Linked DNA regions of Homo sapiens. The protein of the gene in region 3 interacts with the protein of the main gene of each other region in a biochemical or structural test. Each region holds a gene or a part of one and is shown on either strand. Other genes may lie near its edges.

Region 1 (3,852 bases), on a different chromosome or scaffold from region 3:
CTATCTCACACCAGTCAGAATGGCCATTATCAAAAAGTCAAAAACAAAAGATATTGGCGAGGCTGTACAGCAGAGGCAACACTATACACTGTTAGTGGGAATGTAAATTAGTTCAGCCACTGTGGAAAGCAGTTTGGAGATTTCTCAAAGAACTTAAAACAGAACTACCATTCAACCCAGGAATCCCAAGACTGGGTATACATCCAAAGGAAAATAAATTGTTCTACCAAAAAAAAAAAAAATGCACCTGTATGTTCATCACAGCACTATTCACAATAGCAAAGACATGGAATCAACCTAGGTGCCCGTTGACAGTAGATTGGAAAAAGAAAATGTGGTATATATACACCATGGAATACTACATGGCCATAAAGAAGAACAAAATCATGGATGCAGCTACAGGCCATTATCCTATGTGAATTAACACAGGAACAGAAAACCAAATACCACATGTTGTCACTTAGAAATGGGAACTAAATATAGGGTACACGTGGATATAAAGACAGGAACAACAGACACTGGAGACTACTACAGGGGCAGGGAGGGAGGGGTACACAGGCTAAAAAACTACCTATTGGATACTATGCTCACTACCTGGGTGACGGAATTATTCGTACTCCAAAGCTCAGCATCACACGCTATACCCATGTAACAAACCTGCATATGTACTCCCTGAATCTAAAATAAAAGTTGAAATTGGGTCAGGTGTGGTGGCTCACGCCTGTAATCCCAGCATTCTGGGAGGCCAAGACGAGCAGATCACAAGGTCAGAGATCGAGACCATCCTGGCTAACACGGTGAAACCTCGTCTCTACTAAAAATACGAAAAAATTAGCCGGGTGTGGTGGCGGGCACCAGTAGTCCCAGCTACTCGGGAGGCTGAGGAAGGAGAATGGCATGAACCTGGGAGGCGGAGCTTGCAGTGAGCCAAGATTGCACCACTGCACTCCAGCCTGGGCGACAGGCGTCGCAAAAAAAAAAAAAAAAAAAAAAAAAAAAAGTTGAGATGATTTTTTTTAAGTAGTCTAGAGATTGATGGTGGTGATGATTGTACAACAATGTGAATGTACATAATGTGACTAAAATGTGTAATTAAAAATCATTAAAATGGTAAATTTTACACTATATACCTTTTACCCCAATTTTTTAAAATCAAATAATCATCCTGTGGGCTTTTATCAAGACTGCATTAATAAACTCAAAGATACATTTCTAAAATTAAATATAGAAAGGTTTCAGTCCTAAAAAATGTGTTTGGAAAAGTAAAATCATACTGTTTTAATCATGTCTTGAGAATATAAGTTCAGATTAGGGAAATTCTCAACGGAGCATTTATAAAAGAAATATAGCCTTCTTAGAATTTTCCAGTGCATACAGCAATTTAAACCAGACCAAACAAATTGCTAAGATGACAGGTCCTTCCAGGGCTTGTCATCTTGATAATTATAAAAATGATGAGCTGTAATTAGAATGTCAGTCATCTTTAAATAGTTACTTCTGAAGTACCTCACTAAGATAGTAATTTTTTTGCAAGCCTTCCATGTTTTATTTAGGAAATACTTTCTGAAAAACAATATTAATGTGTTGCAGCCTGAATTACCACTCTTTATGAGTTATTATTAGGTGAATCAATGACTTTTTTTTTTAACTGTATAAAGATAAAACAAGGGTGCAAGGAAAGAAAAGAGGAACGCAAAAATGCAAGCAGAGGTAGAAAGAGTGTAACGTCCTTAAAGATAATATGCCAACCCACTTGGCTCTTCGTATTTTCTCTGGCACTTGAAAATACATCCTGTATCCCCACTGCACTTATCCTACGTCCATTAGTCCTACAGATCAATATCCCATTCCCTGGGATGGCTTATCCTAGCTATTGGCACTGTCCCTCAGAGAACTTGTGGCATGAGGAAGAAAAGGTTATTTTACTTTATACTCTGAAAGCAAATTCAGTCAGGACAAACACAGGCCTTCCAATTTTAGAAATCTACATTTAGAACTGGAAGGCTGAAGGAGTAATGTAGCAACTAATCTTTTAATTCCCCTAAGAGCACATTTATTTTACTTTCCCCAAGGAACAAATATTAAGGAAAGGCTAATTTTATTTTAGTTTATTTTACTGATCTAGCAAAAATATATTTCAACATGCTTATGGAGATTTTAAAAACAACAGGAAATGGAGAGAAATGGTACAGGAAAACTGGTTTTGATGAAATAATGTTCTCAATATTAAACAACAGTGGAAATTTAGGGTTGATCTGTAAGCACATGGCTTCCACACAGACCTCAACTAACCAGAATGTATTTGTTTGGGCTAGTTTAAATTGCTGTTATGTACTGGCTTTTAAATGCCACCAATAGGGTATTCTACCTTTAGATCTGGCTTCTACTGACCTTAGAGCTAAGGAAAAGAGTGGGAAAAGAGTAAGCAATCCTTCAGCATTGGCGAGCACCAAGATTCTGACGCTTCTGGTGTCATTTTAGAAGCATGAAATGAGTTTGTGTCATTCTTTATTATGGAAGCCGATAGCCAGAGGAAACTGGAAGGGCTCTGAATGTTGGAACAATCATTTTAAGTAGCCTAAACATTCTTCAGCATACAAGCTACAGCAAGCTTTAAACTACTCAAAACAGCAACTTCTAATATGCAAAATGATATTTTTAATTGCAAAAACTTTGAATTAAAGCATTTACACATACACTGAAAATTCCTAATAGAGGTTTCTCTATTTTTGTAAACTGAATGGGTGATGATTTTATTTATCAGTTTAAGTTGCTAAGCTGTCTTACGAAAAAAATTTATTTATAGTTAATGAGCTAGTGATAAAATCTAAAGGGCCTTGGAAAAAAGTACTATTGTATGCTAATGTGAACAAAATCCAGTTGTCCCTCAGTATCTGTGGGGGACCGGTTCCAGGATCTCCTGCAGATACTAAAATCCACAGATGCTCAAGTCCCTGATAGAAAATGGCATAGTATTTGCACATAACCTACACACATCCTCCCATATACTTTAAATGATCTCCAGATTACTTATAATACCTAATACAATGTAAATGCTTGGTAAATAGTTGTTAACGTTTATTGCTTGGGGAATAATGACAAGAAAAAATACTCTACATGTTCAGTACAAATGCAATTTTTAATATTTGCAATTTGAGGCTGGTTGAATCCACAGATGTGGAATCCATGGATACAGAGAGCTGACTTTAATAGCATACATTAATTCTTCTTCTGCAATGACCCCAGATACCAACAATGCCAGGGACATCATAAAGAATACAATCATGGTCTCTGCCTCTGAGGAACTGAAGGTCTAATGGAAAGTCAGATCCTAAGTAAGTGGAAAACTAGAATGCAAATACAACTGGAATAATTAAGGAAATGAATGTATCATGCAAGTATATGGTCCATGTGACACATGTTAATATGTCAAATAGGAAATAATTATGTGCAAACTAGTGACAACTATATAAAAATTGTATATAACAGAAAACAATTACACGAAATCCCAGAAACCAAATTCTCCATATTCCAGCAGATGATAAAATGTGAGCCTTTCCTCAGTGAAGATCATCCAGTTTCCTAGAAGAACAAAGTGTTCTTCATAGCCTTCTTCCTTTTTTAGCAATAAATGTTCCATTTGAGCACAAAAGATTGAAGGGTATGACAATCTTTATTTCTGAATCCATTTAATTCCAGAAAAACATTCAAATAAGAGAGCTCTACGGTTTGGGGTAAACTTTGGTATACAACATTACAACTTAATGTCTTCCATCTATGCTACAGCAAAAGCAATTCAAAAACCCTCTCAAGGTACAAACAGCCAAATGTTACTCTTACCAATTTCTTACA
Region 2 (3,852 bases), on a different chromosome or scaffold from region 3:
GGAGGCCGAGGCGGGTGGATCACGAGGTCAGGAGATCGAGACCATCCTGGCTAACACAGTGAAACCCCGTCTCTACTAAAAATACAAAAAATTAGCCGGGTGTGGTGGCGGTGGCGGGCGCCTGTAATCCCAGCTAGTCGGGAGGCTGAGGCAGGAGAATGGCATGAACCGGGGAGGCAGAGCTTGCAGTGAGCTGAGATGGCACCACTGTGTTCCAGCCTGGGCTACAGAGCAAAACTCCATGTCAAGAAAAAAAAAAAAAGAAATACAAAGACCAAAATGCCAAAATGTGAGATTTTCACACAATAACCAGCTCTTATTTTCTTAGATTTTAAAAATTAACTTAAATGTTTGAGGGTTTTTTTTTTTATAGTGACTGAATCTGAAGATTTGGTAGTTTTGTATTTTTTCTTTTTTTTTTTTTTTTTTTTTTTTTTTTTGAGATGGAGTCTTGCTCTGTCATCCAGGCTGGAGTGCAGTGGCGCGATCTCGGCTCATGGCAACCTCCGCCTCTTGGGTTCAAGCAATTCTCCTGCCTCAGCCTCCTGAGTAGCTGGGACTACAGGCATGCACCACCACACCCAGCTAATTTTTGTATTTTTTTTAGTAGAGGCGGGGTTTCACCATGTTGGCCAGGATGATCTCAGTCTCTTGACCTCATGATCTGCCCACCTTGGCTTCCCAAAGTGCTGGGATTACAGGCGCGAGCCACCGTGCCCAGCTGTATTTTCTCTTTTTAAAAATCTGTATCTGTTGCTTATGGGGACTAGTATAAGACCTAGGACTTTGGACAATGATTTATTTTAGGGACAAGGCATGAAATGAGGATCCTTAGCCTCTTAATATCTCAGGGAGATAGATTTCATCAGTAAGCTTGATGAAGGTAGGGTAAGATAAAGATAAATTCCAGAAGTTCTCTTTTCTCTCCGTTCTCTTTCACACAGCCACAGTTCCGACCATTTTGTCTCATAGTACAAGTCCAAATACTATAGCTTACCGAGTTATTTTGAACATAACTCCAACTTACCTTCTAAAAAGTTATTATTGTAGTAAAAACACATAACATGAACTCTACCCTACTAACAAGTTTTTAAGTGTGTAGTATAGTATAGTTGACACTTGAACAATGAAGGAGTTAGGAGTGCCAACTCCCCTACCACCCTACCTCTTGTGCAGTCGAAAATCCACATATGACTTTTGACTCTCCCAAAGCTTAAATGCTAATAGCCTTACTATTGACTGGAAATTTTACTGATAATGTAAATAATCAATTAACACACATTTTTAATATTATATGTATTATATACTGTATATATATATATACACAGTATTCTTAGAATAAAGTAAGCTAGAGAAAATAAAATGTTAAGAAAATCATGTAAGAAAGAGAAAATATATTTATTGTTCATTAGATGGAACTGGATTATCATAAAGGTCTTCATCTTTGTTGTCTTCATGTTGAGTAGGCTGAGGAGGAGGAAGGGGAGGAGTTGGTTTTGTTGTCTTAGGGGTGGCAGAATCAAAAGAGGTGGAGGCAGAAGGGTAGGGAAAGAGAGGCAGGCACACACAGTGTAACTATGGAAATATGTAACTACTATGTGACTTTTTTTGCTTTCTCATTTCTGGAAAAATGTTTCTATACAATACTGATCCTCCTGTCATTTTCTTTAGTTTCTTTTTGGTGCCCCTGTTGTAGAAGGGTCCATGTCATTAAAGAAATCAATGCAATCTTGAATCGTCGGAACCCTTCTGCCAGATTGTCTGATGTCAGTAACAACGATAGCATCTTCAATGGTATAATCTTCCAGACTTTAATGATGTTCTCTTTCTTGGGGTTCTCTTCCATAGCATTGACAATCCTTTCTATAGAGTACCTTGTGTAATGAGCCTTAAAGGTCCTTTATGATGCCCTGATCTAGAAGCTGAATTTGAGATGTTGTGTTTTGAAGCAAGTAAACCACTTCAGCACCTTCATTGTTGAACTTTGGGGTTCTGGGTGGCCAGGTGTATTGTCCAATAGCAAAAGAACTTTAAAAGTTCTTGCTGGCAAGGTACTTCCTGACCTCAGAATCAAAGCATCAATGGAACCAATCCAGAAAAAGGGTTCTTGTCCAGGCCTGCTTGTTATGTAGCCGGAGGACTGGCCGCTGGTGTTTATCTTTTCCCTCCAATGCTCAGGGGTTAGCAGCTTTATATGTAAGGGCAGTCCTGATCATAAACCTGAAAGCATTTGCAGAAAACAGTAGAGTTAACTATCCATTTCTGCCTTAAATCCTGGTGCTTGCTTCTCTTCCTTACTAATAAATGTCCTTTGTGGCAATTTTTTTCAAAATAGAGCACTTTCTTCTACATTAAAAACCTATTCAGGTAGATATCCTTTCTCTTCAGTGATTTTCCTTATGGCGTCTAGAAACTCATTGCTGCCTCTTGATCGGCAGAAGCTGCTTCTCATGTTGTGTCTGACTTTTTTTTAAGACAAACCTCTTTCTAAAGTTATCAAACTATCCTTTGCTGGCATTAAATTCTACAGCTTTACTGCTTGGGTGATGGGTGCACCAAAATCGCACAAATCACCACTAAAGAACTTAAGTAACCAAACACCACCTGTGTACCCCAGTAACCTATGGAAAAAAAAGAATTCTACAGCTTTATATCCTTTACCTTCTTTTTGCTTTAAGTGGTCTTATAATGACTTCGCTTTTTCTCAAATCATGTTAGAGTCTATGACTTTCTTTCAGCAATCCTGCACCCATATCAGTGCTGCATTTTCAATATAAGATAAAAAAATCTTTCACAAAAAGTGTAAGGTTTTCATACTTGCTGGTGTAGTTACAATGATGGCTTTTCTTTTTTTTTTTTACAATGGTCCTTCCACTGGATTCATTTTATCTTGAAATGTCAGGCAACCATAGCTGCAGACCTCAGTCTACAGTACATAATCAAGCAATTCAACTTTTTATTGTAATGTCATGACTTTTCTCAGCTTCTTGGGAGCACTTGCAACATTACTGGTGGCACTTTGTATGGGTCCCATGATGTCATTCAAGGTTTACAGTATTGCACATTAAACATGATGAAAAAATATGCAAGAATCTCAAGACATCACTTTTTCCTGCAATATTCAATTTACTGGAGAGAGGAACTGCTCAGGCAAAGATGAATAGAGTCACATGTGCTTTAACCAGATACATCACTTAAGCTCACCACAATAGCAACTGGAAGTAGCTACAAAATTATTACAGTAGTGCAGTATGTACTACAGTGACTTTTATGCACTTATGACTGAATACTGCATCTTTACATCTGTTTACATTCCTCTTAACTGCAAATGGCGACATCTATGGTCTGTAAGTGTACGCATAGTTTTGATAAATTTTAACTTTTTATAATTTGTGTATATTTTATGGTAGTAAATGATAAAATAGACTAATATGTACATAGATTTCATGCATTCATGACATTTTCTTAATTTTTGGGTATTTCTAGGCTACAAAGTTCATCCGTGAGTTTTTTTCAAGTTGTCACAAATGTCCAAAAAAATTTTCAGTATATTTATTGAAAAAAATCTGCATATAAATGGACCTGTGTGTTTGAAACCCATGTTGTTCACGGGACAACTATATTTTTAACTCTGTGTACATTGTCATATAGCAGATCTGTGTAGCAAATATTTCTTCAAGATCTTGTTTCTAATTCTTTTGGAGAAATAACCCAAAATGGAATTGCTGGATTATGTGGTAATTCTATTTTTTAATTTTTGAGGAAGCTTCATACTGTTTTCCATGGCAGCTGCACCATTCTACATTTCCAACAGTGCACAAAAGTTCCAATTTCTCCACATTGTTGCCAATA
Region 3 (4,026 bases):
AGTTTAGCTCCAGTCAAATAATTTAGTATCATCTATGATATATTACCCTTCATTTTTTTTTAGTGTTTTAATTGGTAATACAGCATTCATTTTCCTTCTGTTTTTAATGTGACTGTGCTTAGGTTACTTTCCGCACCAGAATCTATCACTGCAACATCAACAGTCAGGGAGTCATCTGTCTGGACATCCTTAAAGACAACTGGAGTCCCGCTTTGACTATTTCAAAGGTTTTGCTGTCTATTTGTTCCCTTTTGACAGACTGCAACCCTGGTAAGCAAATCTTTATTAACATGTACAATAAGACTACAAAAACGAGTGCTTTTTTTTTTTTTTTTTTTTTTTTTTTAGTTAGCTTTAAATGTAGATTGAGAGGTAAATGTTATTCATAGAAAGATCCCCATAAAACAGTTTGTGAGGAAATTACCAATGCCATTTGAAGTAGACTAGGCCAAAAGTTTCTCAATACCTTCATTTAATTTGTTAATGGCATACCACTCTATAATTATTTTGTCACCATCATTAATGGAATCTCTACTTTTAAAAGTATTTAGGTGCACAGACCACTTCTTTTTTTTTTTTTTTTTTTTTTTTGAGACGGAGTCTCGCTCTGTCGCCCAGGCCGGACTGCGGACTGCAGTGGCGCAATCTCGGCTCACTGCAAGCTCCGCTTCCCGGGTTCACGCCATTCTCCTGCCTCAGCCTCCCGAGTAGCTGGGACTACAGGCGCCCGCCACCGCGCCCGGCTAATTTTTTTGTATTTTTAGTAGAGACGGGGTTTCACCTTGTTAGCCAGGATGGTCTCGATCTCTTGACCTCATGATCCACCCGCCTCGGCCTCCCAAAGTGCTGGGATTACAGGCGTGAGCCACCGCGCCCGGCCGACCACTTCTAACAAGAGTAAAGCAATGTGTCTGAAACCAGTGCCTCCTTTTCCTGCTCCTTCCATGCTGCTGTATGCTTTTAGGCAACTACTTTAATAATAGAAGGCTTCTTGTTCTCCCTTCCTTTTTTAATTAATTAGTTATATAAAGTGTAGTAGTAATGGATATTAAAATGATAGCCAATGAGAATTGAACTAGATTATGATTATATAACCTCAGATAAAATCATTTGTGTATAATTCATAACTTTAAAAAATGCCTGCCACATGTGAACTTCAGAAACTTGGGTAGCTGACTTGATAAAGTGATGTTTAGACCTGAAATTTCACACATTTTGTTTCGTTATGTGACCTTTTTTTTTTTTTTAAGTTGACTTACTTCTAAATATTTGATAAGTCACTAAAGACTGTTACTGTTGTTACCTTATGCTCGGCAGAGATACATATGCAATAGATAGTGACAGATGGATATTCATTGTGGTATCCTTTATTAGAGTATTGGAAACAACCTCAATGCCCATTAATAGATGTAACGTTTAAAAAGAATGTGACAACTCTATATGAACTAATAGGGAAATATCTTCAAGATATATTAAGTATAAAAGGCACTGGAAAAAAATACATATACACAACATAATATTCTAAATGCTTGTCAGTGCATGTAAGAACTCTGGGAAGTAATGTTGTAAATGGGTAACAATTGTTTGCCAGGGAAAGAAACTTCTGAGCAGTTGGAGTCAGGAAGGAAGATAGTTTTTTTTTACTGGCTATGGTTTGGTACAATTCAAATATTGTACCATATGTACATATTTTTTTGTTTTTAAACATCAAAATAAAAATTTATATCAGGTTCACTCTCTAGTTCAGAATTCTACTTAAAACAAAATGGCAAGTAAGTTTTCAAGTGTAAATATTGATAGTGATTAGAGTCATATCAGGCACAGAATGAAGGAAGCATTTTATTTGAAATAGCATGGTATTGTAAGACTGGGGTTTTATTTTAAAATTAACCATTTTTGAACTATTCATAAGCAGAAATATAACCACCTAGTATACTTCCATTTTGAATGAAAGGCCAAAATTACAAAATAGTTTTTGTATATTAAAGACATATCTTTTATAAAAGTCAAATCTAACTTTTTATATATAGCTCAAAATTCATTTTTTTTTTTATGAAGGGGACTTTCCTAACTGGAATATTAAAATATACATATGATCATGTTACTTTAAACTTTTTCTTTTGAAAATTTAGCTATTATATATGAAGATACTGCTGAAAAATAAGCATTTCATTTTAATAGAATATTAGAACTATACCTTGAAGAAGATACCACAAAATAGCTTTTAATGTTCTTTCTGCTTTTCCAGCGGATCCTCTGGTTGGAAGCATAGCCACTCAGTATTTGACCAACAGAGCAGAACACGACAGGATAGCCAGACAGTGGACCAAGAGATACGCAACATAATTCACATAATTTGTATGCAGTGTGAAGGAGCAGAAGGCATCTTCTCACTGTGCTGCAAATCTTTATAGCCTTTACAATACGGACTTCTGTGTATATGTTATACTGATTCTACTCTGCTTTTATCCTTTGGAGCCTGGGAGACTCCCCAAAAAGGTAAATGCTATCAAGAGTAGAACTTTGTAGCTGTAGATTAGTTATGTTTAAAACGCCTACTTGCAAGTCTTGCTTCTTTGGGATATCAAAATGTATTTTGTGATGTACTAAGGATACTGGTCCTGAAGTCTACCAAATATTATAGTGCATTTTAGCCTAATTCATTATCTGTATGAAGTTATAAAAGTAGCTGTAGATGGCTAGGAATTATGTCATTTGTATTAAACCCAGATCTATTTCTGAGTATGTGGTTCATGCTGTTGTGAAAAATGTTTTACCTTTTACCTTTGTCAGTTTGTAATGAGAGGATTTCCTTTTACCCTTTGTAGCTCAGAGAGCACCTGATGTATCATCTCAAACACAATAAACATGCTCCTGAAGGCATAGTTTCCTGTCGTAATATTTTAAGTCAGTCTTGTTAGAAAGTGTGTCTGAGATGATTGTTGATGAAGTAAAAATGTGGCTATGAAGATTACTAAAGACTAGCACAAATAAACCCATTCTTAAATTGAAAACATTTAAAATCCTATTAAATGCATAGAGTTTTTTTCCTTTGTTATTGAAAGAATGACCTTAAATAATCAAAAGTGGATTTTGACCCATTGGTCTCAAACACATAAAGTTGTACTTCGGTAATATGATGTTTAAGCCAAAAAGAATATGAAATCCTGGCTCGCTCACTCAGGAATCTGGTAATGTCTTATGGAACATGTTGCTTCCAAATTGATGATTTTTGTTCAGCACTGGGCAATATTGTCAGATGGTAACTGTGATGTGGTAGCTAGTCTGTGATGCACTTTTTACTTCTAATCCTGGTCTTGAATGTTCATGTTGTGTATTACCATTCTTACTATGGCAAGTGGCCAGCAAATACAGCCAGAGGCAGAGATGAACACAGAAATCTTTGTCTGCCTTGAAGGTAGACTAGAACTGTGTTAGTGTACAGATGTGATATTATTTCTCAATTGGTAAAATACCAAATTGTAAGGTTTTTAGAAGGTTAAATTTCTTCTTTCTAGTTGTAATTCTGAAGTGTTAGATTTCTTGAAAGTTAGAATTTCTTTGCAATATTTAGATTTGCTAAACAGAGTATAATTGTGTGTGGTGGTGGTGTTTTGTTTTGTTTTGTTTCCCTGTGACTAAGGTAATCATCTCTGGTCATGTAACCAAGGTTGTGGTATATGGGGCAGGTGTCTTCTCCAGTCCTCAATATGGAAATGAAGTATCATCTTAAAAATGTATAGAGTGAAAATATTAACATAAAAAATGCTTCCGGATAAAGTAAAACGTGTAGTTGTGTGTGTCACTAGAATAGCAGACTCCTGTTTGTCAGTAGAAGTCTTATATCAGAGTAAAATTAAAATTACACTTACATATCTGTTTTTCACTTAAACTCCCCACCCCCAACATTATTACAGAGGAGCACTATACAAAGGTACTATTTTGAAGAATTCAGACTTTACCTCTGTGAAAACCTAACTAATAATTTATAATGGAGTCCAAGTGAATGTGATGCAAGTGGAGACC
Region 4 (3,852 bases), on a different chromosome or scaffold from region 3:
AAGAGGTTAAGGCAAAAAAAAAAAAAAAAAAAAAAAAAAAACAGAAGCTGAGGGAAAGAAAGGCCAAAAAGAAGGGCTTCTGGCAGAGGCAGAAAGATCTCTGACAGAAAGAATGGGAACAAGAAAAAGGAGGGGTGAGGTGTGGTGGCTCACGCCTGTAATACCAACACTTTGGGAGGCTGAAGCAGGCAGATCACCTGAGGTCGGGAATTCGAGACCAGCCTGACCAACATGGAGAAACCCTGTCTCTACTTAAAATGCAAAATCAGCCGGGCGTGGTGGCGCATGCCTGTAGTCCCAGCTACTCAGGAGGCTGAGGCAGGAGAATCGCTTGAACCCAGGAGGCAGAGGTTGTGGTGGGCCAGAGATCACGCCACTGCACTACAGCCTGGGCAACAAGAGCGAAACTCCGTCTCAAAAAAAAAAAAAAAAAGAAAAAGGAGGAAAGTGAGACGACAAAGCCCCAACCTCCTACCCTACTCACCGTGACATCCCAGGGCCGGAAAAGAAACTGTCGATTCAGATTTGACTTCTCAATGGTGTCCATGTCTGTAACGATGATTTCTCCACCCTCCCCGCAGCCCAGCCCAATCATGGCAAAGTTCTTGAGCAGCTCACAGCCAATGGCCCCCGCACCCACCTAAGAAGCAACCAAGAAGACAGGCAGAGGCTGGTCAGGGTGATGCAGGTTAGTGTGAAGCTACCCATCACCCCTCACTCCCCTGAGAGACGGGGAGAGGGGCTAACACCACATCTTCAGGTTGCAGGACTCTAAGAAATGACACGCAGTCATGTGAGGAAGGAGGCACCAGAAGGGGAAACGAGGGATGCACTGGGCTTCCCTTCAAGATAAGGAGAATGGCAAAGAGAATGCGCCACCGGTTGCATTGAGATGCCGAAGGAAGCCCCAGGGGTGATGGCCAGAGGCCAAGATGAGGGGAGCAGACATCCAAGGGGACCACTTACCAGGAAATACTTCTGCTTGCCCAGCTTCTCTTGCAGGTCTGAGCCAAACACAGCCACTTGCCCGTCATAACGGTTCTGGCGCTAAGGAATGCAAAGGGAGGAGGGTTAGAGAGGCCTCCCCAGAAATGTCCCCAATGATGCCCTCCCCACAGGTCCCACCCACATACCTGGAGGCACTTGTCCTCTGTGAGGACCTCTTTGTCCTCAGGGAGACACTCAAGGGCATCAAAGTATAGCCACTGCATGATGGGCATGAACTTCCCGGAGCAGGCCTGGAGAGGGGAAGGGAGAGAGGGGGTGGTCAGTGGTTAACAGGGGCCTGACACAGACAGAGAGCAAGTGACAGAGTCATGGAGGAACCTGGCCCACCCCAATCCTGCCTCTCCCCACCCGTGCTGACCTTCATGACTTCCTGGGCAGCCAGGCCCCCAATGAAGGCGTTTATGGGTGCCAGATCCCCAGCAGCCACATATGCCAGCTTCCGGATGAGGTCCTCGTCCAGGTTATTTTGCTGCACTGCTGGCAGGGCTCGAGCATTCACAGCCTGTGCTAAGGCTACCAGTTCTGCTGCATCCTCCTGGTGGGCCAGAAAGAACCAAGAGAGGATATGTCAGGCCACAGTGAGGGCAGGGAGTGTGGACACGCAGAGAGGCATGGTGAGCCTGCAGTGCCAGGCATGTCTGCGCTGGCTGGCTCGCCCACTCACCCACCTCATTGCGGGGCCGAGGTGGCCGGCCATGCTGAGCACAGAACTGGTGCAGGGCCTGGAAGCCAATGTGCAGCTGGGCAGGGCGAGAAAACTTGGCGAAGTCCGTCACCACAAAGTCAGGTTCTGCCAGTGAGGCCACCAAGGATTTCTGTGGCGGGGGGAGAGGTCATCAGAACCAGAAGAGAGGAATGGAGAACTAGGGAATGCCTAGAACCACCCCCCACAGCCCACTGATCCCATCGACACACTCACAAAGCTAATCTTCTTAGGTACTTTGACCTGACTGACGATGCCTCCACGGATGTAGTCGGAGAAGTTGGAGGTGTCACAGATGCTAAAGGTATAAGGACCTACAGAGGGCAGGAAGAGAGCTGTCAGTCTACCCATTCTCCCTAAAATCCACAACCCCTGCAAGATAAGGAACCTCCTGCCCCGACTCAGCTCAGACATCAGAAGCTGTCTTCCCTCAGCTCCAGGCTCCACTTGGACATCAGAAACCATCTCTCCTGTGCCCCAGACTCAGCTCAGACCCCGTGAGACCCTGTGTCCCTGGCTCCAAGTCTACACGGGAAGACCTTCTCTGCTTCCCATCCAAATCAGCTCACACACAAGTAGATCCGCTGATCTGCCCTGTTCAAACACCAGAGACTTTTTCCCCACTCAGCTCAGATACCAGGGACACATTCTCCCAGGAATAGCTCAAACACAGTACCTCTCCCCCATGCCCACCAGCTCTTATTGGACCCCACAGGATTGTCTGTAGTTCATCTCAAACACCAGGATGTGTCTTCCCAACTCTGAACCAAGGGCCATGTCTTCTCCCTTCAACTCCCCGGCCAGAACCCAGGAACATATCTTCTAGTTCCCCTCTGCTTCCCCCATGGTCGCAGCTCACCCAGGACTTTGATCTCCATGGGCTGATTTCCGTTGAGTTCAACCATGCCCTGTACTTCTGAAAAGGAGACAAAGTCCCCGCTCTCAAACCCGTGTCGGGCCTCATCCAGGCAGGTAACCACACCGGGGTTGTCCTGGTTAAAGGAAGAGTGAGTCTCAGAAACAGGCCCAGGGTACCAAGAGCAGACAGGAAGGACTACTGCAGCCCACCTGCCTGCCAGGAACCCTAGGGCTGGTCTCCTTACCTTGGTAACCATAGAAACCATAGCACTGAGTGGCTGCTCCCCATTGGAATCTGTGAGGATCATTTCCTCTCCAAAGTCACAGAAGAGCTGCCTGTAGAGGGAAGCAATAGGGCTGGTGCCTGTGTCCCATGCACATACAGGTCCCACGGGTCCCTCAAGATGTAGTGAAAACTTGCTGAGCAAACTCAGCCTATCACTGCTGGGATGTAAGATGGTACTTGTGCCACATGGGGAGAGATGAAAACACAGAACCCAAAACCTGGGTAGCTGAGAAGGGATGAGGGCAGGGAGAGCCTAGAGTCTTGGCCTGGGCTTGGTAGGAGTTGGGGGAAAAGGGGACAGGGAGGGAGGTGGGCTGCCACTCACCCAAACAGGCCCCGCGTGTCTGCCACCACCAGCTTGATGCCACGGTTGTGACAGAACTCACCCACTCGCAGCTGGTCCTCCAGGGGGGTGTTGGTGAGCACCACCACCTGTGGAGAGATGGAGGCTCAGGCCCAGCATTGGGGTGAAGGGGAAAAAATGGAGGGCTGGTGTGGAGGACTCAGGCAGTCCTCAAGGCAAACACATCCAGGCTTTGCTGGGTCAGCCTCTTTCACAAACACATAGCACCTACTGTGTATCAGACTCTGTGGGGGTCGAAAATGAACCCCTGGACTATACCAGGAAAGGTGAAGAGGTAGCTGGGAGGAGGGAGTTTGGAGAAGAGCTGACTCATTTATTTGACAAACACCCGCTGCTGTCTGTCTGCCATGCCCTGTGAGACACTGGAGTAAAACTCTGTCTCCAGCCAAAGTCTGAGCTCACTCCTACCACACCCACCTGCTTCCAATTCTCAAGACGACGCCTGCTCCGCCATGATCTTTGGGATTTTGCTCTCTGCCTGAATGTCCATCCTTCCCCACCAGGGTGAGCTCCTACTCCTCCATCAGGATTTAGCTGCAGTGCCCTGGCAACCTGGGATACTCCAGGGACAACTCTCAGCTTCCAGAGCACCTCTTTCCGGCCTGGACTTTTTAATTAACAAACACCCATCCA

Evidence for each region. The genes of interacting proteins can lie anywhere in the genome.
Region 1: the proteins of UBE2E3 (region 3) and RCBTB1 form a complex in vitro, tested with the Homo sapiens proteins (one study listed by BioGRID).
Region 2: of the proteins of UBE2E3 (region 3) and UBA6, one has a biochemical effect on the other in vitro, tested with the Homo sapiens proteins (one study listed by BioGRID).
Region 4: of the proteins of UBE2E3 (region 3) and UBA1, one has a biochemical effect on the other in vitro, tested with the Homo sapiens proteins (3 studies listed by BioGRID, with this or other methods).

What each region holds. Positions count from the first base shown.
Region 1 is NC_000013.11:49,575,207-49,579,058, forward strand, and holds part of RCBTB1 (RCC1 and BTB domain-containing protein 1), read right to left. Parts: intron 1-3,852. UniProt on the Homo sapiens protein: May be involved in cell cycle regulation by chromatin remodeling.
Region 2 is NC_000004.12:67,690,804-67,694,655, reverse strand, and holds part of UBA6 (ubiquitin-like modifier-activating enzyme 6), read left to right. Parts: intron 1-3,852. UniProt on the Homo sapiens protein: Activates ubiquitin by first adenylating its C-terminal glycine residue with ATP, and thereafter linking this residue to the side chain of a cysteine residue in E1, yielding a ubiquitin-E1 thioester and free AMP.
Region 3 is NC_000002.12:181,060,543-181,064,568, forward strand, and holds the end of UBE2E3 (ubiquitin-conjugating enzyme E2 E3), read left to right. Parts: intron 1-122; coding exon 123-270; intron 271-2,248; coding exon 2,249-2,346; 3' UTR 2,347-2,883; downstream 2,884-4,026. UniProt on the Homo sapiens protein: Accepts ubiquitin from the E1 complex and catalyzes its covalent attachment to other proteins. In vitro catalyzes 'Lys-11'- and 'Lys-48'-, as well as 'Lys-63'-linked polyubiquitination.
Region 4 is NC_000023.11:47,200,329-47,204,180, reverse strand, and holds part of UBA1 (ubiquitin-like modifier-activating enzyme 1), read right to left. Parts: intron 3,288-3,852; coding exon 3,181-3,287; intron 2,906-3,180; coding exon 2,815-2,905; intron 2,704-2,814; coding exon 2,571-2,703; intron 2,026-2,570; coding exon 1,928-2,025; intron 1,824-1,927; coding exon 1,677-1,823; intron 1,544-1,676; coding exon 1,367-1,543; intron 1,239-1,366; coding exon 1,134-1,238; intron 1,048-1,133; coding exon 967-1,047; intron 641-966; coding exon 485-640; intron 1-484. UniProt on the Homo sapiens protein: Catalyzes the first step in ubiquitin conjugation to mark cellular proteins for degradation through the ubiquitin-proteasome system.